Homo sapiens: one gene and its partners. The protein of the gene in region 1 purifies or fractionates together with the protein of each later gene. This does not show direct contact. Each region holds a gene or a part of one and is shown in the gene's direction. Other genes may lie near its edges.

Evidence for each region.
Region 2: the proteins of CD109 (region 1) and TBC1D10B fractionate together in Homo sapiens (co-fractionation; one large-scale study listed by BioGRID). This does not show direct contact.
Region 3: the proteins of CD109 (region 1) and ME2 fractionate together in Homo sapiens (co-fractionation; one large-scale study listed by BioGRID). This does not show direct contact.
Region 4: the proteins of CD109 (region 1) and PLCXD3 purify together in Homo sapiens (affinity purification with mass spectrometry; one large-scale study listed by BioGRID and IntAct). This does not show direct contact.
Region 5: the proteins of CD109 (region 1) and CD226 purify together in Homo sapiens (co-immunoprecipitation; one large-scale study listed by IntAct). This does not show direct contact.
Region 6: the proteins of CD109 (region 1) and NFASC fractionate together in Homo sapiens (co-fractionation; one large-scale study listed by BioGRID). This does not show direct contact.
Region 7: the proteins of CD109 (region 1) and PISD purify together in Homo sapiens (co-immunoprecipitation; one large-scale study listed by IntAct). This does not show direct contact.

Annotation. Positions count from the first base shown.
Region 1 is NC_000006.12:73,765,593-73,769,669, forward strand, and holds part of CD109 (CD109 antigen isoform 1 preproprotein), read left to right. Parts: intron 1-337; coding exon 338-562; intron 563-1,166; coding exon 1,167-1,268; intron 1,269-1,355; coding exon 1,356-1,418; intron 1,419-2,462; coding exon 2,463-2,639; intron 2,640-4,077. UniProt on the Homo sapiens protein: Modulates negatively TGFB1 signaling in keratinocytes.
Region 2 is NC_000016.10:30,367,228-30,371,874, reverse strand, and holds the start of TBC1D10B (TBC1 domain family member 10B), read left to right. Parts: upstream 1-1,380; 5' UTR 1,381-1,691; coding exon 1,692-2,647; intron 2,648-4,647. UniProt on the Homo sapiens protein: Acts as a GTPase-activating protein for RAB3A, RAB22A, RAB27A, and RAB35. Does not act on RAB2A and RAB6A.
Region 3 is NC_000018.10:50,920,267-50,924,343, forward strand, and holds part of ME2 (NAD-dependent malic enzyme, mitochondrial isoform 1 precursor), read left to right. Parts: intron 1-189; coding exon 190-299; intron 300-394; coding exon 395-492; intron 493-807; coding exon 808-921; intron 922-3,831; coding exon 3,832-3,946; intron 3,947-4,077.
Region 4 is NC_000005.10:41,311,277-41,315,353, reverse strand, and holds part of PLCXD3 (PI-PLC X domain-containing protein 3), read left to right. Parts: intron 1-1,583; coding exon 1,584-1,737; 3' UTR 1,738-4,077.
Region 5 is NC_000018.10:69,860,665-69,864,741, reverse strand, and holds part of CD226 (CD226 antigen isoform a precursor), read left to right. Parts: intron 1-302; coding exon 303-428; 3' UTR 429-4,077.
Region 6 is NC_000001.11:204,834,821-204,838,897, forward strand, and holds part of NFASC (neurofascin isoform 1 precursor), read left to right. Parts: intron 1-4,077. UniProt on the Homo sapiens protein: Cell adhesion, ankyrin-binding protein which may be involved in neurite extension, axonal guidance, synaptogenesis, myelination and neuron-glial cell interactions.
Region 7 is NC_000022.11:31,644,945-31,649,021, reverse strand, and holds part of PISD (phosphatidylserine decarboxylase proenzyme, mitochondrial), read left to right. Parts: intron 1-745; coding exon 746-921; intron 922-4,077. UniProt on the Homo sapiens protein: Catalyzes the formation of phosphatidylethanolamine (PtdEtn) from phosphatidylserine (PtdSer). Plays a central role in phospholipid metabolism and in the interorganelle trafficking of phosphatidylserine.

The DNA of each region.
Region 1 (4,077 bases):
TGAGACCTTGGAGGAAGGGAGAAGAACAGATGTCCAAAATTCCCACATTTAGGGAGAGGAAAGAGGAACTGAAAAGGACACTGAGAGGATGCAGAAAGAGAGGTAGGAAGTGAAGGGGGTTATTTTGGAGCCGCGGAAGTTAAGGGAATCCATAATATTAACAAGGGAGTAATCAGTGATGTTGGATGCCTCCTAGAGAGAGGCCACTGAATCTGGATATTATAGTGCTACCAATAATTTTTGAGAGTTCAATTTCATGAGAATACTACAGACGGAAACTGTATTTAATCGTACTTAAATCCTTTGTGTTTTTAAGATGTTTTGTTTTGACCATTAGGTGAAGGTAACTCGTGCTGATGGCAACCAACTGACTCTTGAAGAAAGAAGAAATAATGTAGTCATAACAGTGACACAGAGAAACTATACTGAGTACTGGAGCGGATCTAACAGTGGAAATCAGAAAATGGAAGCTGTTCAGAAAATAAATTATACTGTCCCCCAAAGTGGAACTTTTAAGATTGAATTCCCAATCCTGGAGGATTCCAGTGAGCTACAGTTGAAGGTGCCGTCTGTTTCCCATCATTGTGTCACTGCAACAACACCATTACAGTTGTAATCTTGTGGTAGGCACTCAACCTGTCAGAACTGAAAGTACATAGGAAGTGGACACATGTTTCTGTTTCACAAAATGGAGGAGAGTGGTAAAAGTAATTTAATGACAGTGGCTGAAGGTTAGACTAAATTTTTCCTTGTAAGTTCATTTTGAAGAGCACAGTAAAATATAGCAATGTGAAGATATGATGGAGAATTTCCTCAAATCCCCAGTCTAGTGTTTGAGGTCAGTCATTTGAAATTTTATTTTGGCAGGAATTGAAATGAAAGATAAATATATATACATATATATATATACACACATATATATGTATATGTATATGTGTGTGTGTATATATATATATATATATTCCTTTCCTGTGTTTTAAAGCTATCAGTTTCTTTACAGTATAAGCTATAAAATGATGAAAATCCAATGTCTGGTGAATGTATTTTTCTTGCATTAAAAAAAAGTGAAGATGAATTTGGTCTTTAATAATTGTTCAGCAGGTAACATCTTTTCTCAAGGTGTTACTAAAGATGAACATTTACAGCTCCTTTTTCTTTTATTATAGGCCTATTTCCTTGGTAGTAAAAGTAGCATGGCAGTTCATAGTCTGTTTAAGTCTCCTAGTAAGACATACATCCAACTAAAAACAAGAGATGAAAATATAAAGGTAATGCTTACAATTCACTTGAGAATTACAATATAATTGGACTATCTTGCTTTTGATATGTACATATTAATTAAGGTTTTTTTCTAGGTGGGATCGCCTTTTGAGTTGGTGGTTAGTGGCAACAAACGATTGAAGGAGTTAAGCTATATGGTAATCTCTTATAGAATCTAAATTTATGATCTATTATAGAATCATCTTTTTATTCACTTTTAAGTTCTGGGGTACATGTGCAGGTTTGTTATATAGCTAAACTCATGTCATGGGGGTTTGTTGTACAGATTATTTCATCACCCAGGTATTAATCCTAGTACCCATTAGTTATTTTTCCTGATCCTCTCCCTCCTCCTACCCTCCACCCTCCCATAGGACCCAGTGTCGGTTGTTCCCCTCTATGTGTCCATGTGTTCTCATCATTTAGTGTGCACTTATAAGTGAGAATATGTGGTATTTGGTTTTCTGTTCCTGCATTAGTTTGCTAAGGATAGTGGCCTCCAGCTCCATCCATCTTCCTGCAAAGGACATGATTTTATTCTTTTTTATAGCTGCATAGTATTCCGTAGTATATGTGCACCACGTTTTCTTTATCCAGTCCACCTTTGATGGGCATTTAGGTTGAGAATCATCTTAAATGGTGTCTACCTTATATCTACACTAAACTTATTAATTTTTATAACTCAGCCTCATACCTTTTTAGCCTGTCGTTTTAACATTGCAATCAAATAAAAAACCTTTTTTATTTCTTCACCTATGTTTGCATTTCCAATTTAAAATAGATAACTAAACCTTGTTTTATGTTTAAAATTTAAATTTCTATTTGATAAGCAATATATATTCATTATAGAAAATTATACAATGTAAGAAAAATGAAAAAGAAAATAAAAAGTGCTATCCATGACCATGTAATTTTGCTAATTCAGCTTTCCCAATGGTGCCCTGTATTCCTTGCAATCAAAAATAGATTCTTGACTATGAAGCTACTGTTGCTCCAATCAGTATTACTTTAATCTTACCATTTTCTTTTTCTCAGTGTATGCTCTCTGTGTTTGTCAGAGAGGTTTTCCTGCATTCCAAAAGACTTTGAAGCTGGTTTAATTCAAGAATTTGTGTGTATGCATACAATTATGATTAATGTAGCTTCAGATGAGATCCTACTAGGTTTGGCAATAAATTAAACCCATCTACTGTTCTTTTCAGGTAGTATCCAGGGGACAGTTGGTGGCTGTAGGAAAACAAAATTCAACAATGTTCTCTTTAACACCAGAAAATTCTTGGACTCCAAAAGCCTGTGTAATTGTGTATTATATTGAAGATGATGGGGAAATTATAAGTGATGTTCTAAAAATTCCTGTTCAGCTTGTTTTTAAAAATAAGGTAAGATTTAAGGTAATGATGTTTAAAAGAAAACTTTATATTAGTGAAGTCTGAGAAATGTAATATTTCTTTAGAAAAGTATCATTAAGCCAAACTGGTTAGAAATTTATATTATTCTATTTCTAGAACTATGGTTAAACTTTTCAATATTTAGCATTACATATATATTTTCACTTGTGGAGTTATTGGGGATTGATAGTCTATTTGTAAACTATGGTTCTGGTCTTTAAGACTTTAACTCAGATCATGAAGCTGTTTCAGAATTTTTCAAATGGTTGAATTAATATTGCTCAGGAGTGAAATTCCAGTGGTAACATAGAATTCGTGTGGTGTTGATATTGCAGTGATATAAAGGGTGTGGGAAGGAGTGAGGCCATCTAGGATAATACGTAGAAGCAGAGCTGGGCTTTCATTAATCTATTTAATTAGCTGGAAACTAGCCCAGGGCAACTTTTCAATGAGCTTGATTACCCTGCATGTGAGGATCTGTGTGGAGTCTGGTCTCCAAGTGCACCAGTGCCTTTTATAGCCTAATGTGACCAGCTTGAGTAGGAAATCCCTTTGGACCCCAGCTCTGAAAAGAAACCTGATTGCATCATCTCATGTATATAAGAATGAGCCATTGCTGTCACTAACAACTGCTGCCCTCTCCATCCTCTTATGTAAAAAATTATTCCTTTAAATAGTGATTTGCAGAGTATGGTTCTTCTATTTCTTTTTCCTTTATTTGTTAAAATATTTGAGAAGTAACAGTAGTGATCTGTACTTTCTTTTTTAAAATTTGTATTTATTTATTTTTTGAGACTAGGTTATAAGACTGGCTAATTTTTGTATTTTCGGTAGAGAGAGGGTTTTGCCATGTTGCTCAGGTTGGTCTCTAACTCCTGGGCTCAGGAGATCCACCTGCCTCAGCCTCTCAAGGTGCCGGGATTACAGACATGAGCCACTGCGCCAGGCCTGTACTTTAGTTTTGTTGAGAATTATTACTCTCACTTTGATTGTTAAAATATAATACAAACTTCTATTTTTTTAGCTTATGAAAAGAGTTCTTAAAAAGATAACACTGTGTTTTGTTAGTGGTAGAGCACAATTTTTGACTTCTAGTGATCCTAGTAATTGCCTGACAAAGGTGAATTTTAAAGTAGAAGTTATGGAGGCTTAAACATCTCAGAAAGCAAGACCAGGTTCTAAAGCTGGTTACAGTGTAAAAGATCACGGACTTTGAGGAAGCAGAGTATATGAATAGCATACTTTCAAGTAATTTCTTAGCTATAAGAGAAAGGAATTAGTTTCAGTTCCATTTGCAACTATATATCTTTCTCTTATTTTTATGTGATAATCATCACATTTATAAAGAAACAACATAATTAGAAATGGAATATGTCTAAGCAAGAGAAAGTTAGTGAATGTTTATTAATGTTCAGTAATGACTATGGAA
Region 2 (4,647 bases), on another chromosome or scaffold:
GCTCATAACGTCAGGTCTTTATGCTTGTGATCTAAGGACAACCTGGAGCGCTCATGAGATTGAGGTCGGGATTCTCAGTGGAACATGAGGAGCACAGAGGGATGTGGCAGTGAGGGGAGAGGGGTTGACGGGACTGGGGCCTTGGATCCCCAAAAGAATAGTAACACACATATGGGGAGTTCATGGTATTAGGGATTCATGGATTTGGGGTTTGAGATCCCCACTAGAAGAAATGGAGGGGGTACTCAGAGGGATAAGGTCTGAGGAACTGGAGCCTGGGTTCTGGGGAGGAGCTCAGATAGATGGGAACTGAGGAGAGGGACTTGGAGGTTGGGATTCCCGCAGGAAATGGGTGAAGCAGAGATATGGGTTGCTTATAGGATCTGGGGGCTCTGGCTATTGCCACCTGGGCCTGGAGTGTTGGGGTTAGTTGGGGGCCGAGATCGGAGAATTATAGAGTAAAGGATGAGAGTACTGGGTCAGGGCACTGGATCTGTGGTGGGGCTCAGGGTCCCACAGACCACCAGAGTGTGGGGCTCAGGAGCTGAACGAAGAATAGGGGACCGGAAAGGACTCGAGAGGGGGCAGCGCGGCACTCATTGGTTGAGGGCTGCACTAATGCCCCCGCCCCTTCTCCGTGCTGTCCCCAGCTGTCACCCTCCCATAAGGCTTGTCTCCGGTTGTCACCGACTATCCCTGGGCTGGCACCGCCTGCTGGCAGCATCTTTGCCCTTTGGATGCTCCCATTGGCTGAGACAGCTATCTATTTTCCTGTCCTGTGGCCAAAGTGGGAGAACACGATCATTGGCTGACGGGGCGAATTAATCTCTAGCTTGCCCCGCCTCCTCCCAGCTGTCATTCCTTACTGACCATTTTGGGAGACCTAAAGAATTCTTCAGCTCTTCCTATTGACTGCGGATGCTGTCTGTCACCGCCTAAATAGACATCACTGCCTGTCAATTTGACCTCCACCTGCTCCCCTTTTCATTGGCTCCCTTTTTACCATTCCTATTGGTTAAGAAGCCTCCAGGCCCCACCTCTTACTCGCACAGCCCTGCCTCCTCCTCCGCCCTTCCGCGGTCATTCACCCTTCAGTCATATTCATTGGCCAGGAGGTTCAGACCCCTGCGTTTCTATTGGTTATTTCTTTCGTCCCATCGCCCCCTGCCTTTCCTCGTCCTCTGATTGGTCTTACAGCCCTAGCTTTCTCCGTTTCCTCTTTCCAGATGACCCACCCCTTTTTCGCCTCCAGCCCCGCCCACGATTCCAACGATTGGCAGAAGCCCAGTTCTCTCTCTCCCACTATTCGTCCAAATCCTCTGACTAGGCGGGAGAAAAAAGGAGCGCGATGAGCCAGTCCGCGCGCAGGCGTGGAACGCCGAGACGCTGGCGCGGAGCCGGCTCTGCGGCGTGTGCGCAGGCGCGAGGTCGGCGGCTCGCCCCCAAGCAGGAGGGAGGGGGCGGTGGCGAGAGCGCGCGAGGGGGTGAGAGGGCTCGAGAGAGACCCCGGCGCGCGGCGCCCCCCGACCCCTGCCCCGCCTCTGCGCGCCCAGCGGCCGCTCCGCCCCCGGCGCGCGCCGAGCCGCGCCCTTCGCCCTCTCCCCTTTCTCGGCTGGCCTCGCCGGGAGGCCCGAGGGGCGGCGCCTTCTGCGGCCTCCCCGGCGGGGGGATGTGAGGGGCGGCCCGCGGCCATGGAGACGGGCACGGCGCCCCTGGTGGCCCCGCCGCGCCGTCATGGCGCCCCCGCGGCCCCCTCGCCGCCGCCCCGGGGTTCCCGGGCCGGGCCCGTCGTGGTGGTGGCTCCGGGACCTCCAGTGACTACGGCCACTTCGGCCCCCGTCACCCTGGTGGCCCCCGGGGAGGCGCGGCCCGCCTGGGTCCCGGGGTCGGCCGAGACCTCTGCTCCGGCCCCGGCCCCAGCCCCGGCCCCAGCCCCGGCTGTCACGGGCAGCACGGTGGTGGTGCTGACCCTGGAGGCCTCGCCCGAAGCCCCAAAGCCGCAGCTCCCCTCCGGCCCGGAATCCCCAGAGCCCGCGGCAGTGGCTGGAGTTGAGACATCGAGGGCTCTGGCCGCAGGGGCAGACTCGCCGAAGACAGAGGAGGCTCGACCCTCACCCGCCCCAGGACCAGGGACCCCCACCGGGACCCCTACCAGGACCCCTTCCAGAACGGCTCCTGGTGCCCTGACCGCCAAACCCCCGCTTGCCCCCAAGCCGGGAACCACAGTGGCCTCAGGAGTGACTGCACGGAGTGCATCAGGACAAGTGACAGGTGGGCATGGAGCTGCCGCAGCAACATCAGCATCAGCAGGACAGGCTCCTGAGGACCCCTCAGGCCCTGGCACAGGCCCCTCTGGGACTTGTGAGGCTCCGGTAGCTGTCGTGACCGTGACCCCAGCTCCGGAGCCTGCTGAAAACTCTCAAGACCTGGGCTCCACGTCCAGCCTGGGACCTGGCATCTCTGGGCCTCGAGGGCAGGCCCCGGACACGCTGAGTTACTTGGACTCCGTGAGCCTCATGTCTGGGACCTTGGAGTCCTTGGCGGATGATGTGAGCTCCATGGGCTCAGATTCAGAGATAAACGGGCTGGCCCTGCGCAAGACGGACAAGTATGGCTTCCTTGGGGGCAGCCAGTACTCGGGCAGCCTGTGAGTACCAGTGGGCACCCAGCGGGACCGCCTCGGGGAAGCAAAGGTTGGGGGAGGGCGAAACGAAAACGATACACTTTGCCCAGACTCTGGCAGCCCAGCCTCCTCTGAGGATCCACGGGGTGATCAGCGCGAGCTGCCGTGTCTTGAGCATCCTGAGGTGCCTGTGACATTGGCATGTTAGTGGAGTTTCAGACCAGGGGTCAAGAGGTCTGGGTTTAAGCCTTGCCTTTGATGGGTTGTGTGCCCTTGAGCTAGTGGCTTCCCCATTTCCGTGCCTCAGTTTTTTCCTCTATAAAGTGGATTGAATGAGATGATACCTGAGGTCATCCCTGCTCTTTGATGGGGAACTCCAGCTACAGGCCGGATATTCTGGAGGGTTGGTTGGGCGAGGGTTCTGGTAGAGACCCTTGGTCCCTTAGGGTGGATAGCCTGGGAGGGGTGCAGGCATCTCCCTTCCCCCATAGCCCTAGGTCCCAGGGATGGAGTAGAGAGGTGGGGAAGTCTGGCTGATGGAAGGGAGACTGTGCAGTCAGGATCCCGCTGTGAAACAGGGCAGTCTTGTATCTGCACTGAAGTAAAGGGTGGGAGAGGCCTCTTCCCCATTTCCTCATCTCCCCAGCCGGGCTGACTCTTTCCTAGTTCTCTCCGGGGCCTGAGTCACTCCCGAGGTAGGGGGTGATTGCCTCTGACTTCTTCCTTCCCCCTCTCTGGATCCTGCCCGTTGTTCCTGTGCCCCTTTGACCTGCTGGGCCAGTCAGCCTACAGCATCTCCTGGGCCCCCAGGTGTCAGGCCCCAGGTGCTAAGGATAAAATAGTCCTTTCAAGGAGCCAATCATCTGGAGAGAAAGAAAAGTACTTAAACAGTTGGTTTCAATAGAAGACCTCGGGTTTAGCCTAGAGATCTCCAGAGGGTTTCCTGAGGCACCTAGAGCAGGGAGTCAGCTGAACCTGCTCTGAATCGTGGAGAGTAAGTAGGATTGATTTAGTCTTGGCTATGTGTGCAGGGATCGGGGGAAGCCCTGTGGGAGAGTTTTCCAGGCAGGGTTCATGAGCCAACCAAAATCAGAAAGCCTTTGATTGGGTACCAACATTCAGGGTCTTACATGGGAAAGCAACTGAGGTTTGACCCTGGTGCTTTCTAGGCACAAGGACTCGGTTTATAGATGAAGAAACAATTAGTGCAGTTGAGTGAATTGTCCCCCTCAAATAATCTGGATCTGTGTGACCAGTGGCTCTCTCCTCAATAGCAGGCTGTCCTGAGGAACTCGGGCTGAACTTAGTTTGGGGGAGTCCCTCTTGTGTGCCAGGCACTATGCCGGGTGCTGTTTCTTTGCTTTGTAGCTTTGTCCCTGTAAGATCAGCTTCAATGCCAGAGAACTCTACCTCTTGGGCAAGACTGACTGTAATCCATGTTACTTTCGCAGCGTTCAGTGGCTCGCTGCTGTCCACAGGATGAAGTTCAGGCTCTTTGGCCTGCGCATAGCCTCTCTGGTCACCTTTGCCACCATTCCTCACCGGGTGCTTTGCGCTGTGGTCCTGCTGAACTAGTTGTAGTCCTTTCCCCTTCATATTCAGGCTGTGCACCTGCCAAGGGTGCTCTTCTCCCCTTTCTTTGCCTGCTAAGTTCTACTCATTTCTTCATGGCTTACCTCAGATGTCCCCTCCTCCAGGAAGCTTCCCTGATACCCACTGCCCCCACTCCAATTAGATGTGTCTTTGGTGCATCTTTGTCATTGCATTTCCCATGCTGTATTACAGTTATCGCTCCTCTTAGGCTGTAACCTTCTTGAGGGCCAGAAGGTATCTTACTCTTCCCAGCCCTTGGTAGAGTTTGTAACCGACTTATGATAGAAATTAATGAGAGATGGTCTCTCTGTTTAAGGAGCTTCTAGAACAAAGGAAACTAACATTTAACGAGCCCCTTCTATTTAACAGATGTTTATATGCAGTTTCTCAATAGTCTTCTCATAACTTTGTGATGTAGGTGGTGGTGGTGT
Region 3 (4,077 bases), on another chromosome or scaffold:
CATACTTTTTTTATTGAATAATTTCTACATTTTGGATCTAGTCTTTCACAGGCTCTGAAATTTTTCAGATGGCCTTAATTGAACTAACATAATACATTATTTTTGAATGCTATCATAGGGAATATTAGGTGGAAAGCTGTTTAATAGTGTTATTTTCAACACAACTATTGTGGGTTTTGCTGTTTTTAGATATGGCCGGAACACACTCATTCAGTTCGAAGACTTTGGAAATCATAATGCATTCAGGTTCTTGAGAAAGTACCGAGAAAAATATTGTACTTTCAATGATGATATTCAAGGTAAAGCAAAAAAACTTCAGGGTTTTGATTCCTACTTTTTAAACATTTTTAATGTGCCCATTTTTTATTTGTAAAAATCTTTGTTTTTCTTACAGGGACAGCTGCAGTAGCTCTAGCAGGTCTTCTTGCAGCACAAAAAGTTATTAGTAAACCAATCTCCGAACACAAAATCTTATTCCTTGGAGCAGGAGAGGTAAGTTTTGAAGGCTTTTTGAAACTTAAGCCTATCCTCTCTTATAGAATTAGAAAATGGGCAGAATATTGATGTTTATGAAAGAGCATAGTGAGCCTGTAATTTTGTTGAGGTAGAGGATATGAAATCAAGAGTTCTGCTGTAAAACATGTAATTTAAAATATGTTTCGAGAGAATATCACGAAGAATTTTTGTTTGATTTGTAAGGGAAAAATAAACCAAATATTTCTTATGGCATATAATCTTCATATATAAAGTAATTCAAGCATTGCATCGTACTCTAGTATATATTAAAATTTATGTTTTGTTGAACAGGCTGCTCTTGGAATTGCAAATCTTATAGTTATGTCTATGGTAGAAAATGGCCTGTCAGAACAAGAGGCACAAAAGAAAATCTGGATGTTTGACAAGTATGGTTTATTAGTTAAGGTAAGGTATTTAAAATTTGGAGAAGCAAAAGAGTGTATTATATTTTTAGTTGGATTTTTAAAATATTATTCCTTAAAATCTTGTTTCTCATTGGAGTCTCCAAATTATACCAATTGGGACCTTCCACTCTCTTTTCAACAGATGTCCCTAGTCTTGTTGTCTTTTACAAAGACTTCTGCTTCATATTGAATTAATAATCTCTATGTTGGCATCAGACTTACTCTTTCTTGCTTTGTTGTCTTGCTCTTAAGAGATCAAATGGCCATTGTACAAGTATGATCGTGTTTGACACTCCTAAAACTAGGTTTTTAGTAGGAACTGAGAACTTCCTAATTAAATTGCAGTATTGCAGTAGTTTTGATATTTGAGCAGAAATTCTTTTAATTTTATTATTATTTATTTTTTTTGAGATGAAGTCTCTCTCTGTCACCCAGGCTGGAGTGCAGTGGTGCGATGTCACCTCGCTGCAACTTCTGCCTCCTGGGTTCAAGCAATTCTCCTGCCTGAGCCTCCCGAGGCTACCGTGCCTGGCCGTGAGCAGAAATTCTTAACCCTTTGGAGATCATAATCCCCTGAAGAAATCTAATAAAAATCTGTGGACCCTATCCCCAGGAAAAAAGCATGTGCTCCTGAAACCAATTTATGGATAATAAAGAGCTTATCTCCCAGATTAACTTAGTACCTTTGGGCCTGACTACCTTTGTTAGCATTGATTACCATTTTCACTAGCTTAAGAATGTCATATATCTTCTGTGTAACACATTGAATATAAGTAAACTGTTCCATAGTTAAACCAATCCAGTACACAATGCTGTTATATTTTTGTATGTACACATTAAAATATAATGGTATAGCTGTCGCTTGGCATTTATGTCTGTGGAGCAAGCTATCTAAATGTACTTTGTTCCAGTTCTAAAATCTTTTCTTGTTAATTAGAACCAGTATTCTATTAGTACAAAAAATAAAATGAAAAGTTAAAGTATGTGAATGAAAAATCTTGAGTGCTCAAACTACATGTAATTTAAAATGTAATAGTAGTTATATACCAGACATTGTTATAAGACTTTACATGTATTATCTCCTTTAATCATCTCAAAAAATCCTGTGAAGTTTTACAAATGAAGAAACAGTTTAAAAGGTCGAGGGAGTTTTCCAAAGTCATCAGCTTATAAGTGACGGAGGTAGGATTCAAAACCAAGTATCCTGACTGCGAAGCCTGTGCTCTGAATAATTAAACTGTGCTGCCTCCCAAAGAGGCTGTAACTACCATATTTACTAGTATGTAAGGCACAAGGATAAAACATCACATATTTAGAAGGCTATTGGGGGATGTATGTTTTGACTAGTACACAGTTAGTTTGGTACTTCTTTTTGTAATGTTGGTTTTCATCAAATATGTTGTGATTCTTTAGCATATTGGTAGGTCAGGTCTAACACAGTATTGGTAGCTACAATGTGTTTACTTAGCACAAAGTGAGAACCCTGTCCATCTCCATATTCATCATCAGATTATATATTTCTTTTCCAGTGTGCAGGTAGCTTGGCCTATGGGCATTAGGCTTCCAGTGTCTCCTGGTGATCCTAAACACTGCCCTTCATTTTGAAACTTTGAAAACAGTGGCTTCTTATGTCACTGTTTGCTCAGCCTGGTTTTCTCAGCCGATTGATGATAGTGTCCTGCTTTACTAACCCCTGCAGTTTCTTATCTGGAGTTATCTTGGAGTTCTGATGGAAATACACTTTTTCAGAAGTCTTCTTTTTTACCAAAATAAGAATATGAGTTCTCAGTTGGTTTTTGCATTCAGTATGTTTTTGTCTGCCTTAAATCTTTGAGAAATTCTTCATTGTTCTAGTCTGTCAGTGGTATCTCTTCTGGCTTTGTGGCATTACTACAAATTTAACTTTTATGGTTTTTGACCTGGGATTTGGAAAGGAAAGCATGTTTCTTCATTCAGCCATCTTTAACCAGAATTCCCTGTTCCTCTTGTTTCTGAACTCTTGGTAGTGCAAGTCCATGGTGTCTGTCTGCAATTCTGAAATCCTAAAGGCTTTGAAATTCCAAAATTTTTTCCAAAATTTATTTTTGTGACCAATCTGATTGCCTTGAATTTACCTAGAAGCGAAACCTGACTCAAACTAATAAGAAGCTCTTTGTAATCTTAACCTTTTGTACTTGATGTGACTATTCATAAGTTTGTTCAGTTGTGGAGTATCTGTTGGGAGGGAGAATATGTAATATTTGATATACGCCATATTGTATTTCTAAAATATGAAAAATTCTCAGCCAGGAGTGGTGGCTCATGCATGTGGTGGCTCAGCTTCCCACTTTGGGAAGCTGAGGTGGACGGATCACTTGAGCCCAGGAGTTTGAGACCAGCCTGGGCAAGATGGCAAAACCCCATCTCTACAAAAAAATCATCCGGGCATGGTGGTGTGTGCCCATAGTTCCAGCTACTCTGGAGGCTGAGGTGGGAGGATCACCTGAGCCCGGGGAGGTAGAGGCTGCCACTGCACTCAAGTCTGGGCGACAGAGTGATACCCCATTTCAAAATAAATAAATCAAATTAAATTAAATATGAAAATTTCTTAATTCCAAAACTCATCTACCCCAGATAAAGGACTGTAGGCTTTTGTGCCACATTGGACTTAGGAAGACCTCATAGTGTAAATGCATTTTTGAGAGGAACTAGAAAGTTTCTAGGAATAATGGTAGATTTGATTTTTGTTTTATATTTGAGTTTATGGACATGATGAAGATAGAGTTGGAAGGTATGGGTTGAAGAGGAAAGTAAATGAAAATGAAAAGACATTTCTATTGTAGAAACAATGTGTAACTCATAATGATGTCTTTTTATTTCATCTTTAATATGCATTGACTAAAAAAATACTGTATTTTATCTCAAAATTTAGGGACGGAAAGCAAAAATAGATAGTTATCAGGAACCATTTACTCACTCAGCCCCAGAGAGCATACCTGATACTTTTGAAGATGCAGTGAATATACTGAAGCCTTCAACTATAATTGGTAGGTAAAGTTTTTCTGATAAATAATTTTACTCCCTAACTGTATGTTGCCAGTCATCATTACCATGTAGGATTACTAAAAATGAATTGGCAGTTTTACCTAGCTTTCAGCATGTACAATGTTTTCTGTGA
Region 4 (4,077 bases), on another chromosome or scaffold:
CTCTCCTCCCCTTCTTCCCTTTTCTCTCCCTCTCCCTCTCCATTTCATCCAGGAATTTAATGTTCACATGTATTTCCCTCAAACTTTCTTTATTAATACACTATCATGTCTCTGGCCTGTTCATTTATCCTTTTGTCATGGAAACTTCCCTTCCTGCCCTGACCAAGTTATAGTAGTTCTCATTCCAATATGCTGTCAGAAGATGCTGGACATCATCATTAACATCACCTGTATCTGTCTGCCTGGATCCATTGCTCCTAAGCACACACCATGATTCTGTCAGCAAATGAAAAAATGGTATTTCCTCTGCCTGAAAGTGCATTGCATCATCCTCCATCTACCATTCTCACCTTTATCCAGCTAAATCTTCCTAATCCTTCAATATTTATTTTAGCAAGCATTCTTCTGAAAGGTTTTCAGAAGACTTTCCTTGATTTTCCAGGCTATGCTAAGTGACTCTCCACTATGATCTCATGGTGATGAATGAGCTCTTATAGTGAAAGTCAAATCACACCACTCCTCTGCTCAAGATAATTCAAAGGCCCCCTATTTTACTCAGAGTGAACATCAAAACTTTTATAATGGCCTAATGTGCCCTACAGAATCTGCCCCCTTTTCCTCAGTATCCTCATTTTTTTTACTACTCTCTTCTTTTCTCTAAGCTTAAGCATGCTACCCCATTAGTGCCATGGCAATAGCTGGGATGCTTTCCCTAGATAGCCACATGACTAACTCCCTTGTCTCCTTCAAACCTTTGCACAAATGTCCCTTTATCACTGAGGCCTATTAAGCCACCCTATTTTAAAATGCAATCTGCATCTCTCCTCCCTACCTGCAGATTCCTAATCTTCTTTTCTTTGCTCCATTTTTATAGCACTTATTCCCTTCTATCAAACTACATATTTTTATGACTATTGTTTATTGTCTGTTTCTCCTTATGAGAATGTAAGCTCCACAGGGAAAGATATTTTTATCTGTTTTGTTCACTTGAATCCTCCAGGTGCCTACACTGATGACTGGAACTTAATAGGTGCCCAGTAAATGTGTTTGAAGGAATGAGCCCTGATTATATTGTGCTACAATTTCTTCCTTGTCTGCCTACCCACCACCAAACTGTGTACTTTCTGAAGGCAGGGGATTTTACTATTATGTCTATTTACAATATCTTAGCACATTTCCTCATAATAGTGGGTTCATAATAAATGTTTGCTAAGTGCATGTATTCATCTCTGACCTCCCCAATCCGTAGTTTTGCAGGGTTTGTGATGACACCATGTTAAATCAGAATACAAATGCAAAAATGTTGTTTTCTTAGTAGGGAAGCATCATTATAAACTATCACAGTATCTGGGATCTGCCGAGATGAGAACTCCAATACGGATCAATATAGTGAATATTTCTCCTGCAGAGTTTCTTCAAAGGTTAAAAAATCCCCAGAGTCCATTTGGCCTTTTCCCCTTCCTGTACCTATACGTGAAACATTTATTTTAATAAGCTAGAAACTAAAGGGAAGACTGAGAATTGTAGAGCTTGAAAAATAGTATCTTGCCTTCTGTGACTTTTCTTTTTGTTTCCTTTCTCAGAGCTCTTCCTGCCATGATGCAGTGGGTCCGCACGCAGAAGCCAGGAGAGAGTGGCATCAATATTGTCACTGCCGATTTTGTAGAACTTGGTGACTTTATCAGCACTGTCATAAAGCTCAACTATGTCTTTGATGAAGGAGAAGCCAACACTTGATAGCACTACTTGGAGTTTCCATGAATAAGATGGAGAAAGCTCATTGTATTAGGGCATACTATCTGTAAACACTCTGATCTTCCTATTCCACTGAGTCTCTGAAGGGAATAGGGCTGGTAGTGGGTGGGAAAAGGGGAAAAACTGTTTCTTCAGTGATTACAATCATACTCTTCATTACTATAAATATTTCATTTCCCATTTGATGAGCAAAATCTACTTCTAGTGTTAGGAATAAAAAAAAAAGACCAGTAACTTTGTTTTTCAAAATTAGTCTTTGTAACATAGAATTCATGAGTGTTTACTTGATTAGGTTCTCTATTTCCAGCCTATGACTCCTACGCTGTCTATACCCTGCAACCTTTCTGCTCCCTCTCTTGCTCGCTCTTTTTAATCAGATGCTGTATGGGAATCAAAACAATTGAATGCCCAACATTTTGTGTATTACATTGTTGTCTTAAAACTTACTAGTTTTGTGGGACTTGTTATAATGCTCTATAGTCATCCACAGTTGGGCAATCATAGCTAATTTTTGGTCATAGAAAATCTGCATCAAATCAGTTTCCATGCATCAGTAATATTGAAGGTCATAATCAGTGATTTTTGTTATATGAAAATAATAGTGTTTCACAGTATTTCTATTTAAGGCAGCTATAAATATAGGAGAAAAATGTTTTTGGAGAGCTGTGAATGCCAATTTCAGAGGGAAAAATGGTTGAGGGGTGAAAGAGATGTATGGCATTTTAATTTGGCAATCTCTTAAATAATATTGCCCTGCAAGTACCCAGTAAATGGTAAGGTACAAGTGTGTTAAAATTGAAAACTCTGAAAATAACTCTTTAAAAAGCCCTCTTAATGATGCTCTTGATGAAAGAAAAAGACAGAAGGAAGGAAGGAAGGAAGGAAGGAAGGAAGGAAGGAAGGAAGGAAGGAAAGGAAGAAAGGAAGGGAGGGAGGAAGGGAGGGAAGAAGGGAGGGAAGGACAGAAGGAAGGACGGGAGGAAGGAAGGAAGGGAGGAAGGAAGGAAGGAAGAGAGGGAGGGAGGGAGGAAGAGAGGGAGGGAGGGAGGAAGAGAGGAAGGAAGAAGAAAAAGACTGCAAGCTTTCCTGCCAATTTGGGATTTTCAAATATTTAATTCTAAATTCCAGATTTTAAGGAAGATTTTTCAAGAAACTGCAAGTTTTTGACTTGAAGGAAAGAAAGAGGAAGGCTGGTAGAAGCAGTTAGAGCAATGTGTTTGAAATTATGTCCATGAAATCACAGGGATCTCTGAAATATCTTTAGGAAACTTGAAATTTATGAGGTCTGAATGGACTTGTTTAAAATTGGCTCTGACTCCTCACTTCTGAGTTTCATCCTATCCGAGGGATGAGATTAAGGCAGAGGCAAAAGTTTCACACAAAGTTTCTGCAACCTAACGTTTAATAGTCCGGGTCTACAGGGAAGAACAATGACACAGCTTGAGCGTTACTTCCTCCTTCGTGTCATTGTGATATTTGACAACTCTAAAAAATAAAAAAAAAAAACTTAGAGCACAATAATCCTTGCCTATGTACTTCACAGGAATATTGTGAGGTGTTTATAAAATTATAAAATTTGATGAAATTCTTACAATTATTAATTATTTTATTTTCATGTTTAGAAATAATCACACCCCAATAGTTTCCTAGGATAATACAGTCCATGCAAAGTAGGGTCATAGAGAAATAAAAGCATGCCCTCAGCTTTTAATGAACTTAAATGTAGCACATATGGCTTAATCTCTTAGACTTAGATAAGGGAGTTCAATTCAAAACCATATATGTCAAGACCACAAATAATCAAGAGTTGATTTCAAGATTATAAATACTCATGATCAGAAAATAGTACTTATTAGCAATTAAAGGGAGGAAAAGAAATTGTTTATACTGAAGAGAATGTTTATGAGGAGTGTGTATGTACCTGTGGTATACCAAATAGCATACATGTACACACAAAAATGTGTGTATACATTTGGGTTGTGTGTATACATCTTGCCATATACAATATACAAACATATGCCCATTCCTGTGATAGCATACAAATTCAAACATACAGAAACACACACAGATATGGACACAGTACAATTCTTCTTTTCAAATGAAGACATTGATAATATTAAATAATTTAATTTTAAGACTGAAACCCTTAATATTGTGTGAAAAAGAGTAATAAAACCTTTGAAAGTAGAGTAGATGATCACATCAAAGTATTTTTGTAAAAGAATTCTAGTGTAGGACTTAATTATTTTTAAAATATATTTCTTCTCTTCTTTCCATTTTCCCTTCCCTTGTAGTTTTATTATCTTTCTGTCTTTTACACCT
Region 5 (4,077 bases), on another chromosome or scaffold:
AAAAATGATAGTAATTGTTCTTATCAAAATAGCTTAACATTGGGAGAGGGAGTTCTACATTGAAACAGGTAATTCATAGCACAATACAGCAAGTATTAATCTAGACTAGATTTCTGTTGCATCTCAGTCAAGAATATGATTTCCAACAGAAGTTCAATACAATGAGAATGTTTTATCAAATTAATTATAATGGAAACTTGTCCCATATCATGCCTGCATTTATGAGAGGTATGTTTTGAATGTCTTCATTAGTTGTTGAAATGCAGTGAATTATTGACACTCTCTGCTGTTTGTCTTTCTAGGCACCCAATAACTATAGAAGTCCCATCTCTACCAGTCAACCTACCAATCAATCCATGGATGATACAAGAGAGGATATTTATGTCAACTATCCAACCTTCTCTCGCAGACCAAAGACTAGAGTTTAAGCTTATTCTTGACATGAGTGCATTAGTAATGACTCTTATGTACTCATGCATGGATCTTTATGCAATTTTTTTCCACTACCCAAGGTCTACCTTAGATACTAGTTGTCTGAATTGAGTTACTTTGATAGGAAAAATACTTCATTACCTAAAATCATTTTTCATAGAACTGTTTCAGAAAACCTGACTCTAACTGGTTTATATACAAAAGAAAACTTACTGTATCATATAACAGAATGATCCAGGGGAGATTAAGCTTTGGGCAAGGGCTATTTACCAGGGCTTAAATGTTGTGTCTAGAATTAAGTATGGGCATAAACTGGCTTCTGAATCCCTTTCCAGAGTGTTGGATCCATTTCCCTGGTCTTGGCCTCACTCTCATGCAGGCTTTCCTCTTGTGTTGGCAAGATGGCTGCCAACTCTTGGCAATTCATACATCCTTGTTTCTGTCTGGTAGAGAGTTTGCTTCTCAAATGGAGCAAACAAATTTGATTATTTTTTCATTGTTAAATAGGCAACATGACCAGAAAGGATGGAATGGCTTAAGTAAACTAAGGGTTCACTTCTAGAGCTGAGAAGCAGGGTCAAAGCACAATACTGGGCAATTCAGAGCATGGTTAGAAGAGGAAAGGGGAGTCTCAAAGCTGGAGAGTTTACCAACAAATATTGACTGCAGTGATTAACCAAGACATTTTTGTTAACTAAAAAGTGAAATATGGGATGGATTCTAGAAATGGGGTATCTCTGTCCATACTTCTAGAATCCACTCTATCAGCATAGTCCAGAAGAATACCTGGCAGTAGAAGAAATGAATATTCAAGAGGAAGATAAATGCGAGAGGGCAATCCTTTACTATTCTCATATTTATTTATCTCTCATTCTGTATAGAATTCTTGCCGCCATCCCAGGTCTAGCCTTAGGAGCAAATGTAGTAGATAGTCGAATAATAAATAACTTAATGTTTTGGACATATTTTGTCTACTTTTGAGAATTATTTTTAATATGTAAATTCTCTCAAAAGGGTCAGGCACCTAGTTATTATTTTTTAATGATTATGTGAAAGTTGAATATAATATACCACTAAAAGTGACAGTTGAAAGTGGTGGCATAGGACGGTAGGGTAGAAATTTGGGAGGGAAAAAAGAAATTGGGAGGGTACAGGCAACAGGAGAAAGGAATCAAACCACAGAAAAATACAAAGGGAAACTTCTGCTTCACTATTCAGACAAAGACAGCCCTAATGACATCACCAACAGTCAAAGCAATTAGAGACCATACCTAATATTGTTTAAATTCTAGATGTAGGCTAACAATGAAAAGTATTTGCCAAACTGAATAAAACTGTCATGGTTACCTTGAAAGGACAATGGTTATTGTTAAATATAGTGATCATTCATGTCTAAAAGATTCATTATTTATCTCTAAAGATTTCTAAAGACCACCATCTAGAAAAGATTCATTATGAAGGCTGTATTTAAATATCAAAGTTGTGGACTTCATGATAATCTTAAATAAAGCAAATCCAAATTCTCCTGTTGCCTAGACAGATTCTAAGATGTAATTTACACTTTTAAGCTAATTAGTGAGTATTTTATGATTTTAGCCTTAAACACCATGTATGCCAAATAATGCACTTGTTTTGTGAATTACAGAAATGGTAAGTGCCCACATTTCTGTGAATTATAAAATTTGTGAGTTTCTTTTAACCCTTTTCAGGAGTGAAAAAATAAAAACGACCATTTCCTGGTTGTGCTTAAGTATATGCAAGAAGGGTAAACTCTCATTTTTATTATGTTTGCTTAAAGATCTTTTTATACCTGGATTCATGAAATGTTTCCACAAATATATTAGTGTAACAAACTTGAAAGGCAGTTTACAAGAAAGCACTCTACTATCAGATCAATCAAAGATTCTGTGAGTGAATTTATTGGTTTGCATGGTGAAGCAAGCTTAGCATCAATTAAAAGGTAAATAATTTCTTTTCTGAATGGTAAAGACAATCAAAATATTACTTTCTGGAAAACTCCAATAACCAAATTCTCAATGATTAGTGTATGTGAGCAGGAAAACATTTTTACAGTTGTAGTATGGGGAAATATAAATCCAATTTTAAGAGAGAAAATTATGACTGGGTGTGGAAGGGACAGTATAGTCAGATACCATTGTCATGGTGGTTTTTACTGGGAACTTCATGAAAGACTTTTGTAGCAAACCACTGCAGTATTGCAAAGCCTCCAGAACATTTGGAACTTGTCTCTTTTTCCTTGTGTGTGTTTGTGTTTTTGGTCTCTCATTCAAAATATTGATGAGAACTATTTACTCTGTCCTTTCTTCTCTATATATTCTTCCTCTACAGAGTGTAGGGTTTTTTCAGGAATTTGGAGCCATCTGAAGTCCTCCCAAAAATTCTCTGACGTCTTCTGATGCTCCTGTTATACCCTCAGGGGTAATGCTTGTGAAATTCCATTCATTCATTTTCTTTCTCTGGACATCTTTACTTACCAAAGCACTTTCATTGTCATCTTTTTAACATCATTCTTAATTCGTGATAGTTTTGGGACTCTCCCTAGTGTATGTTTCTCCCCCTCTACTCTTTTGCACCTATGATTCTGATTGTTACTAAGAAAGCAGATGAAAAACAGATCCACAGAATAAACGATCAGAATTCCAGTAAATTCTATTTTAAATACAGATACTTTTTACAAGTTGCTGCTTTGGAAGCAAAATGCTTCTTAAGTTTTACATATATATATATATATATACATATATATATACACATATAATTTATATCGATGGATAATACATTAAGAATCTATGCTTCCTTTGAATGCCATTAATATTTATGTTAAAGTAACCAATGAAAGGAAATTACTTTGTTATAATAAGATAGGAAGACTTGTTAATGGAGTACACAGTTTTGTCAGGGAAAGAACACATCTTATTGAACTATGATGACTATGCATTGACTATATTATTATAAGAGATACCTTCAAACTTTATTTAAAGAACTTTAGGTATAATATGTTGAGAAAATAAAATAGAAATTTCATTTACTTGTAATCATGCTTAAAATGGGAGGCAGGTAGGTGAAGATATAATTTTTAGTAAAAACTCCAATTTATGTTTTAAGTAATTCAGTGTATTACTAAAATACTATATATATAAACTTAAAATACATGGGTTATCAATTTAAAAGACAAAGTAAGTAAAAATACTTTTAGTAGGCATTCGTGGATTGTGAACATCCAAGTTATATTGGTTTGTATAGAATGGCATTAAGTAAAAATTACAGCTGTATAACAGTAGTTTTCTAAATTGAGAGAGTCCACATTGTAATTAGAGATCACTGTGACCAAAATGCTTCTCCTTGATTTATAATGATGTACTGTATTTTGTACTGCTTATATGAAATTTCAGCAAGATTGACGATATTATAAAGATGCTTATAAAGTGTAAGTGGAGACGCTAAATTGTGAGTACAAAGTTTCTTTTTCACAACAGTGATAAGAAAATATCTTTAAAAAATATAAGACAATATAAACATGTCATCATTAGTTTAGCTACTATTAAAATGTAACATCTAGAAAGTACTGATCTCCACCTTCAGACTTCTGTATAAGTATATTTTTTCACTGATCTGTTCATTAGAGTT
Region 6 (4,077 bases), on another chromosome or scaffold:
ACCCAGAGTTGGAGGAAGGCTGCGTGAATAGTGGTCCTCCAAGTGGGTTCCCTTCTGGCCTGTTTCTGCCTGCCCCACCCAGCCCCTCGTACTTAGCTTCATACCTAGTTCTGACTCTAGGTGGCAAATGAACCTCCTAAGAAGGTCTAATTATTCTCATCATCATCACCAAGCACCTGCTATTTGGGTCAGCGTTACCACATCATCTTCTGGAGCAATGTGGAGGCTTATGAGACCCTGTCTTCTGCCTTACAGGTGGTAAGAGATATGTGTCCAAATATAAGTAATATTTGCTAATTCCAGAATGTAAGTTCTAGAAAGCTGATGGAAGATCACATTGGGCTTGGGTGATCTGGAAAAGCCTCTTGCAAGAGGAAGTACTTGAGGTGGGTCTTTTTTTTTTTTTTTTTTTTTTTTTGAGATGGAGTCTTGCTCTGTCACCCAGGCTGGAGTGCAGTGGCACGATCTTGACTCACTGCAACCTTGCAACCTCCACCTCCCAGGTCAAGCAATTCTCCTGCCTCAGCCTCCCAAGTAGCTGAGACTACAGGCATCCACCACCACACCCCGCTAATTTTTGTATTTTTTGTAGAGATGGGGGTTTCACCATGTTGGCCAGGCTGGTCTTGAACTCCTGACCTCAAGTGATCCACCCACCTTAGCCTCCCAAAGTGTTGGGATTACAGGCGTGAGCCACTGCGCCCGGCTGGTGGGTCTTGAGATATCAAGACTTGAAGACTTTCTCCAGGACTACTGGAGAAAAATCATGTGCAAAAGCAGGACTATGTAGAGGATCTTTGATTCATGAAGGTAAATGGCATGGTTTGGGTGGTGGGTGCATGTAATTCAGTAGTGAGGGGTGTGTCTGGAGCAGTATATGGAGACAAAAATCATAGAGAACCCTGAGTGCTAGTCTTTACTCTTCTAACCTCGTTGCACTGCTGTCTCCCTGATTTGCTTCTCTGAGCACGTACGATGCCCAGCTCTGGGAAAGGCCTTCTAGGATGGGAGACTTCTGGCCTCCATGCTGAGCTAGCTTTCCTGGATCCAGTTTGGGCCAACTGGAGTGGATTGATCAGATGCTAAGTTTTGTTCTCAGATCTTGTGATTTTCTGGGATGAGAGTGAATGGCTGGCAGAGCAATTCCAAGAACTTTTCCCAGTGATGAAAATTCCCTTTTTCTTTACTGATGCTGGCCAATTTGCTTTGGCAGTAGCATTTTAAACAACCATTTGGTGAAAGCTCCAATTTCAGGGTCAGAGAATTTCATCACTCTTTTCTTTATATTACTAAGAATTCTCTGAGTTGTGTATTGGGATATGTGTGTGCATGTATGTCTGTGTGTGCGTGTGTGTGTGTGTGGTGCCTATGTTAGTAGAATTATTCCAACTAAGTCTGGTTCTAGTTTTATCTTTATTTGCAGGGTAAAAGTCATTAAATATTTCTAGGCCTTTTTTGTTGTTCAAAGGTGGAAGAATCTCCCCTATATCTTACTGTGTGTTGACCATAAGCCAAATTATTTGAGAATAACAGGATGTTAATTATGAGGAGGTATTATAGCTATCTATCATTTTGACAGAAGGTGTAATATTGAGGTAAAATTTTAAGTCTGTCTCCCTGCCACCTAATTCTTGGAACATCTTGACTCGTGAGACCAGCCAGAGTTTTATTTGGGGGCACCACCAATGTTTATGCTTCTTGTTACTTTTCCTAGTCTGTCTGGGCTTGTGTGTAATTAGTAAATGAAGTTAGTACATTGCTGTCAGGTGTTGGCTGACCTATATAAGATAAATTTATATGCAAGACATTGTTGTCACTGCCATTGTTATAATACCTATTGTGTGGTATTTTTCCACATGTTGGAGGTGAATGTCTTTATGGAGGAAAATGCCTCCAAGGCCATAGATGATATTTCTATGCTGACGTAGGTCAGGGCAGAAACTGGATATCTTTCCGATTATCATCACACACTGAGTGGAATTGAAGCCTTTGTCATCCACATTGGGAGCTAAACCAGGATTCTGTGGCTGGCCTCAGCCCTGGGATATGCCCTCGTTTTGTTTTTGTAAGATATTCATTGCATCTGCAGTTATTATTTGAAGACCCTGCTATGTGCATTGCACTCTTCTAGGTGGAAACTTGTTCTGAGAGAAACCTAAACTCAAAAATGTTAGAAATGTTTTAGTTCAAGATAGTTATTTTACTAATCAAGAAATGACTCAGAAGTGTGGCATGACTGACTTGTGACTGCATGGCTGGTTGCTGGCAAAAGCTAGTTCTGGCAAAACCCACATAGGAACCTGGTAATGATACAAGATGATTGATAGGTAATTAAGTTTCTAAAGCATGATCTAAACTAGAAGTGCTTTGGGATGTCAGACAACAGAGGAAATCAGTGTAGATTAAAGTCTTTGGGGAAGGTTCTGAAGAGAAGTGGGGGTTGGCTTGGGCCTCTAGAGATGGGTAGGACCTGAACAGTCAAAGATAAGAAAATGGCATTTCTGGTGGGGAAAGGAGTGCCCACTCAAAGGGCTAGAAGAGGGAAACAGCTAGTGTGGTCAGGCATGGTGAATTGGCCAGGCTGCAGCAGTGGAAGAAGCGGTCTGGGGCCAGACTGTAGCAAACCTTGGCTTGCTGAGGAGTGAATTTTTTTGGCATTGGTGAGGAGTATTTGAAGCTTCATAGCTGAACACTCTCTTGTTCTGAAGACAACAAGATTGTGGTGTTAGAAGAAGTGGGTGGGAAGTCCCTTCCCAGGCACCTGGTGGTTTCTGAGGGGATAGTTCCTTCTGAAGGATGTTTGGGGCAGACGGGAGTGCTGAAATACACTGGGAAGGAGCTTGTCGCTGTCCAGAGTGCTGACCTGACCTGAGATATTTTTCTCTTCAGTGATGCTGCACTGGAAAGTAACGCCGGGGAATGCTTACAACCAGCCAAGGGGATCTCGAGAATGATTCTGCCTAGGACTAGGCAGCATGTGGGCTTTTTGTCAGTAAAATAGTTACAGTATCTGACTTTATGGTCCTTGTGATGAAAGCAAAAGTGTGGAAAGACTGTGTGTCCACGTATGCAGGCTAAGATGGCCCACTTTGTAGCCTTGTAAGTTTTGCCTTAGAACTTTTGGGTTTACATGAGAATTCCAGCACACTGCTTCTTTCATTATGAAAATGCACACCCTCTATTCAGCATCCCACAGAACACCTAAAGCCTCCCCAACAAACCAGGGGAGAGCAGCAGAACTTCCCAGAACACCGTACTCATTACTTCAAATGAAACATCTAAATGCTTTATATTAGTGCTGTCCAATAGAACTTTCTTTGATGATGGAAATGTTCTGTATCTGCACAGTCTAACATAATTAAGCCACCAATTACATGAGCACTTGAAATGTGGCTAATATGACTGAAGAATTGAATTTTGAATTACATTAAATTTATTTATGTAATTTATATTAGACTGCACAGCTCTATAGAGTCAGAATCTTTGACCTTTGCCACTTACCTCTCCTTATTGATCCTCATACCTAAGCCTCTCTGACTTAGAGTAAAGTGGACTTTTGAGTGGGGGTAAGTTTGACCAATTGTTGGAGAAAGCCCCATGCTGAATCCAAACTGAAGTCTGTGTCTGGCTGTGAGTTTTGCCCTGACTTTCTTGTTTTCATAATGAGAAAAACCATCCATGATGCCCTGCAAGTTTTCCATTCAAAAGCCGAGGGAAGGCTCCTTGGATTCTGTCTGGGGTCTCAGGGACCTGATCTAAGACTTTTCGGAGCCTGGAACGGGAAAGCGATGTAGTGTTTATGGCCCTGAAAAGCTGGCTGTGGGGTGAGGTGGGGTGGGGTACAAATAATGTGCTGTGGTGTCAGATGTTTGCAGGCATCTCAGCAGAGAAAGGTTCCCGGTCCTGATCCATCTCCCACTGCAACTCTATGTATCTTTACAGTCATCCCGTTTATCTGGTATAGTGAACATGGCCCAGGGTGGGGGTACAGGTGAGCCTTTTTCTGTTTTGTTTTTGTTTTTCTGAGCCATTTTTGCCCCAAGGAAGAGTGAGTGTTAGAAGTATCAAAGGGTGATA
Region 7 (4,077 bases), on another chromosome or scaffold:
GAGAGAATACCAGTGCCTGATCAAAATTGGGCCTGCATTATAAAAGCAAGATCAAAGAGCCCTGGGTGAGAAATGGTGTTTGGCTTCAAGTTCTGGACCTGTTGGTGACCACCTGGGCAACCTTGATTAGTTTCTTGACCTCTTTGCGATTCAGTGTTTTCATCTATTAATACATTTTGTGACTGCGGTGGCAGTTGAGGTGCATTGTAATTCTATAGGAAAGATGCCTGTCCTGTACGTACTGACAGAATTTGGAGACAGGAGGGTCTGAGTAGTGGCCCAAGGTTGCACCTGCCTGCTAGATATGTTGAGGGTCCAGTCACCTCTACTGAGGGCTTCTTTTTTTTTTTTTTTTGAAATGGAGTCTCGCTCTGTTACCTAGGCTGGAGTGCAGTGGTGCAGTCTCGGCTCACTGCAAGCTCCGCCTCCCAGGTTCACGCCATTCTGCCTCAGCCTCCCGAGTAGCTGGGACTACAGGCGCCCGCCACTGTGCCCGGCTAAGTTTTCTTTTTGTATTTTTAGTAGAGACGGGGTTTCACCGTGGTCTCGATCTCCTGACCTCGTGATCCGCCTGCCTCGGCCTCCCAAAGTGCTGAGATTACAGGCGTGAGCCATGTGCCTGGTCCCCTACTGAGGGCTTCTGAGGTGCGCTGACTTTTCCTGACCCTCCTGTTGGTGCTGTGTTTGCATGACTCTTCCCTATTCCTGTCTCTCAGGCTTGAAATTGTCCTGTTTTTTATTACAGATGCCAGAAAAATCCACACTGCCCCTGCCCGAACCATGTTCCTGCTGCGTCCCCTGCCCATTCTGTTGGTGACAGGCGGCGGGTATGCAGGGTACCGGCAGTATGAGAAGTACAGGGAGCGAGAGCTGGAGAAGCTGGGATTGGAGATTCCACCCAAACTTGCTGGTCACTGGGAGGTAGGAATGAGGTGGAACTGCCTTGGGTTCTCGTCCAGCAAACTTTGTCTGTCACTTTTCCAGTTGTTCCAAAGTTGAAATGTTTGAACAAGTCAAATATGCTTTCTTGGAACTCATGTCTCCAGTAGGTTTTGGCCAGATACAGGAGTTATAACTTTGGTGTCAAGTCAAGCTTGTCTTCTGTTGCCAGACCTTACCCTGGTCTCCCCAAGGGTTCTGAGTAGAAATTTCTTGCTGTTGAAGTCTCAGAGTGTATGTCTTGAATTGGTGCTGACATCCTGGCTGTTCTGCTATTCTTGCCCTTGTTAGTCAGAAGAGGGCTGAAACTATTGAGCTTTTGTGATGTGGATTAGTTCTCACCAGGAACCAGACAGAAATAATCAAATTCCTTTGTCATTATTGCTCAAAATGCTTCCTTCCATCATAGTCACACGATAGGGGCAGCCTGCATTGTTACGGAATGCACGATACGTAATGAAACATCTTGTTCATCTGTGCTTCCCATGTCCCAGGATGATTCCTGACTTAGAGGAGACATTCAGTAAATTGTGAAACTGAATATAAAGGTGTAAGTTTAACAATTGCCTTTTTTTTGCAGCCATAATTTAACAAATAAAAAATCTGAAATATCAAAGGACCAGTAATAGGTCTTAATATTCTGGGCAAAAGAGGGGGTGACAGTTGAGGCTTTGTGATATCTGGAATGCAGTGGTGATCCACTCCATTTTGCTAATCCAGATCAGCTGAATCTATTCTAATAGGACATACGGTGACTGGGGCATTAGGATGCTGAAGGCAAGTCTCAACCATGCTCCGCAGTAGCTGTGTGAACTGGGACATGTCACTTTCTGTCTGGTCTTGTGTCTTTAACAGTAAAACAGCAGGTTGGGTTCGAACATGACTCTGAGATTCCATCCAGCTCTAACAGTTTATCTAGGAGTATTTGCTGCCATTGGCATTACATGCTACATTATAGGTTTCCTTCCAAAATCCTTTTTTGGACTTTAATTTTGACCATTTTCTTCCAATAGAATCTAGTATACAGACTTCACTTGATTTCTAACAGTCCTGTAAAACCGTGACTTAGTCAACTGGCCATACAGATCCAGCTATGGGAGTTACCCTAAGAGATACCTGTCTGCTCTTGCCCTGTATGTCCATGTGCCTACCCTTTGGCCTGTTCGTACGCCTTGGGCTTTGTAATAACCTACCTTAAACAAAAAAAAAAGTTTTCCGGTACTATATCACAAATTCCTTTTGGTGAAGGGTAATTATGTAGTAGGTGAGTCACACTTTCAAAGTATGCTGCCCTCTGTTCCCTGTGGCGTTGCTGGTTTCCCCTGTAAACATCATTTTCCATTAGATTAGTAGATTAGTAAAGTACTTGTAAAGTGTAGGTAGCACGTGACTGTGACTGCATGACCCCCCTCAAGTGTTAAACCCAAGCTGACATCTTTCTGACCTTGGGGATTTTTGAGGCTGACTCACCCTGTGATGAGCTTGCATGCTTTCAAGAAATTCCCACACACTTCAAAGGTTTCCCAAAAGAATATAAATTTGGAAGAAACCTGCCACTTCCAAAATCATAAAAGACCAACGCCAGTAGTTTTTTAGTATCTGCTGTTTATGTAATTGGAGTTATTGCCATACATAGTTTCAGACCTGGAAGATGGTTGTAAAGAGGACAGGGTTGATTAACTCATAAGTCCCAGGGCCTGGAAAGTGACAGGACACTGGAGTACAGTGGCCTAATGCAGTGTGAGATCTCAAAGCACCTATTGGTAAAGAACTGGGCTTAAGTTAGATACTCTTCTTGATTGAATAAAATGGTCACAGAACCACTCCTTGATGTTCTTTTTCTTTTTTTGTAGATATGAGGTCTTGCTCTGTTGCCCAGGCTGGTCTCAAACTCCTGGGCTCAAGCGACCCTCCTGCCTCAGCCTCCCAAAGTGCTGGGATTACAGGTGTGAGCCACTGTACCGGCCACTCCTGGATTTTCAAGTGGGACTCCAACACTTCATTTTATGAGGGGGAAATGGTCTGGACTTGGAGTTGACATTGGAGTTTGAGTATCCCTTATCCAAAATGCTTGGGACTGGAAGTGTTTTGGATTTTTTTTTGGATTTTTCAATATTTGTATATATATATATACTGAGATAACTTGGGGATGTGACCCAAGTCTGAACACAAAATTTATTTATTTTATTTTATTTGTTTTGTTTTTCTTTTCTTTTTTTTTTTTTTTAGATGGAGTCTCACTCTGTTGCCCAGGCTGGAAGGCAATGGCGCAATCTTGGCTCACTGCAACCTCCGCCTCCCCGGTTCAAGCGTCTCCCACCTCAGCCTTCCCAGTAGATGGGATTACAGGCACCTGCCGTTATGCCCAGCTAATTTTTATATTTTTGTAGAGACAGGGTTTCACTGGCCGGGCGCGGTGGCTCATGTCTATAATCCCAGCACTTTGGGAGGCTGAGGCGGGTGGATCACCTGAGGTCAGGAGTTCGAGACAAGCCTGGCCAACATGGTGAAACCCCGCCTCTACTAAAACTAAAAAAAAAAAAAGAGACAGGGTTTCACCATGTTGGCCAGGCTGCTCTCGAACTCCTGACCTCAGGTGATCCGCCCACCTCGGCCTCCCAAAGTGTGTGGATTATAGGTGTGCGCCACTGCGCCCGGCCAATTTATTTATTTATTTGAGGCAGGGCCTTGCTCTGTCACCTAGGGCTGGAGTACAGTGGCATGATCACGGCTCACTGCATCCCTGACCTCCTAGGCTCAAGCCATCCTCCCACCTCAGCCTTCTGGAGTAGCTGGGAATATAAGCGTGTACCATCCTACCTGGCTAATTTGTTTGAATTTTTGTGGAAACAGGGGTCTCATTTATGTTTTAGATATACCTTCTACACATAGCCTGCGGGTAACTTTATATAATACTTTAAATAATTTTCTTCATGAAACAAAGTTTTTTTCTTTTTTTTTTGAGACGGAGTCTCACTCTGTCACCCAGGCTGGAATGCAGTGGCATGATCTCGGCTCACTGCAAGCTCCACCCTTGGGTTCAAGCGATTCTCCTGCCTCAGCCTCCCAAGTAGCTGGGATTACAGGTGCCTATTACTGCGCCAGCTAATTTTTGTATTTTTAGTAGAGACAGGGGTT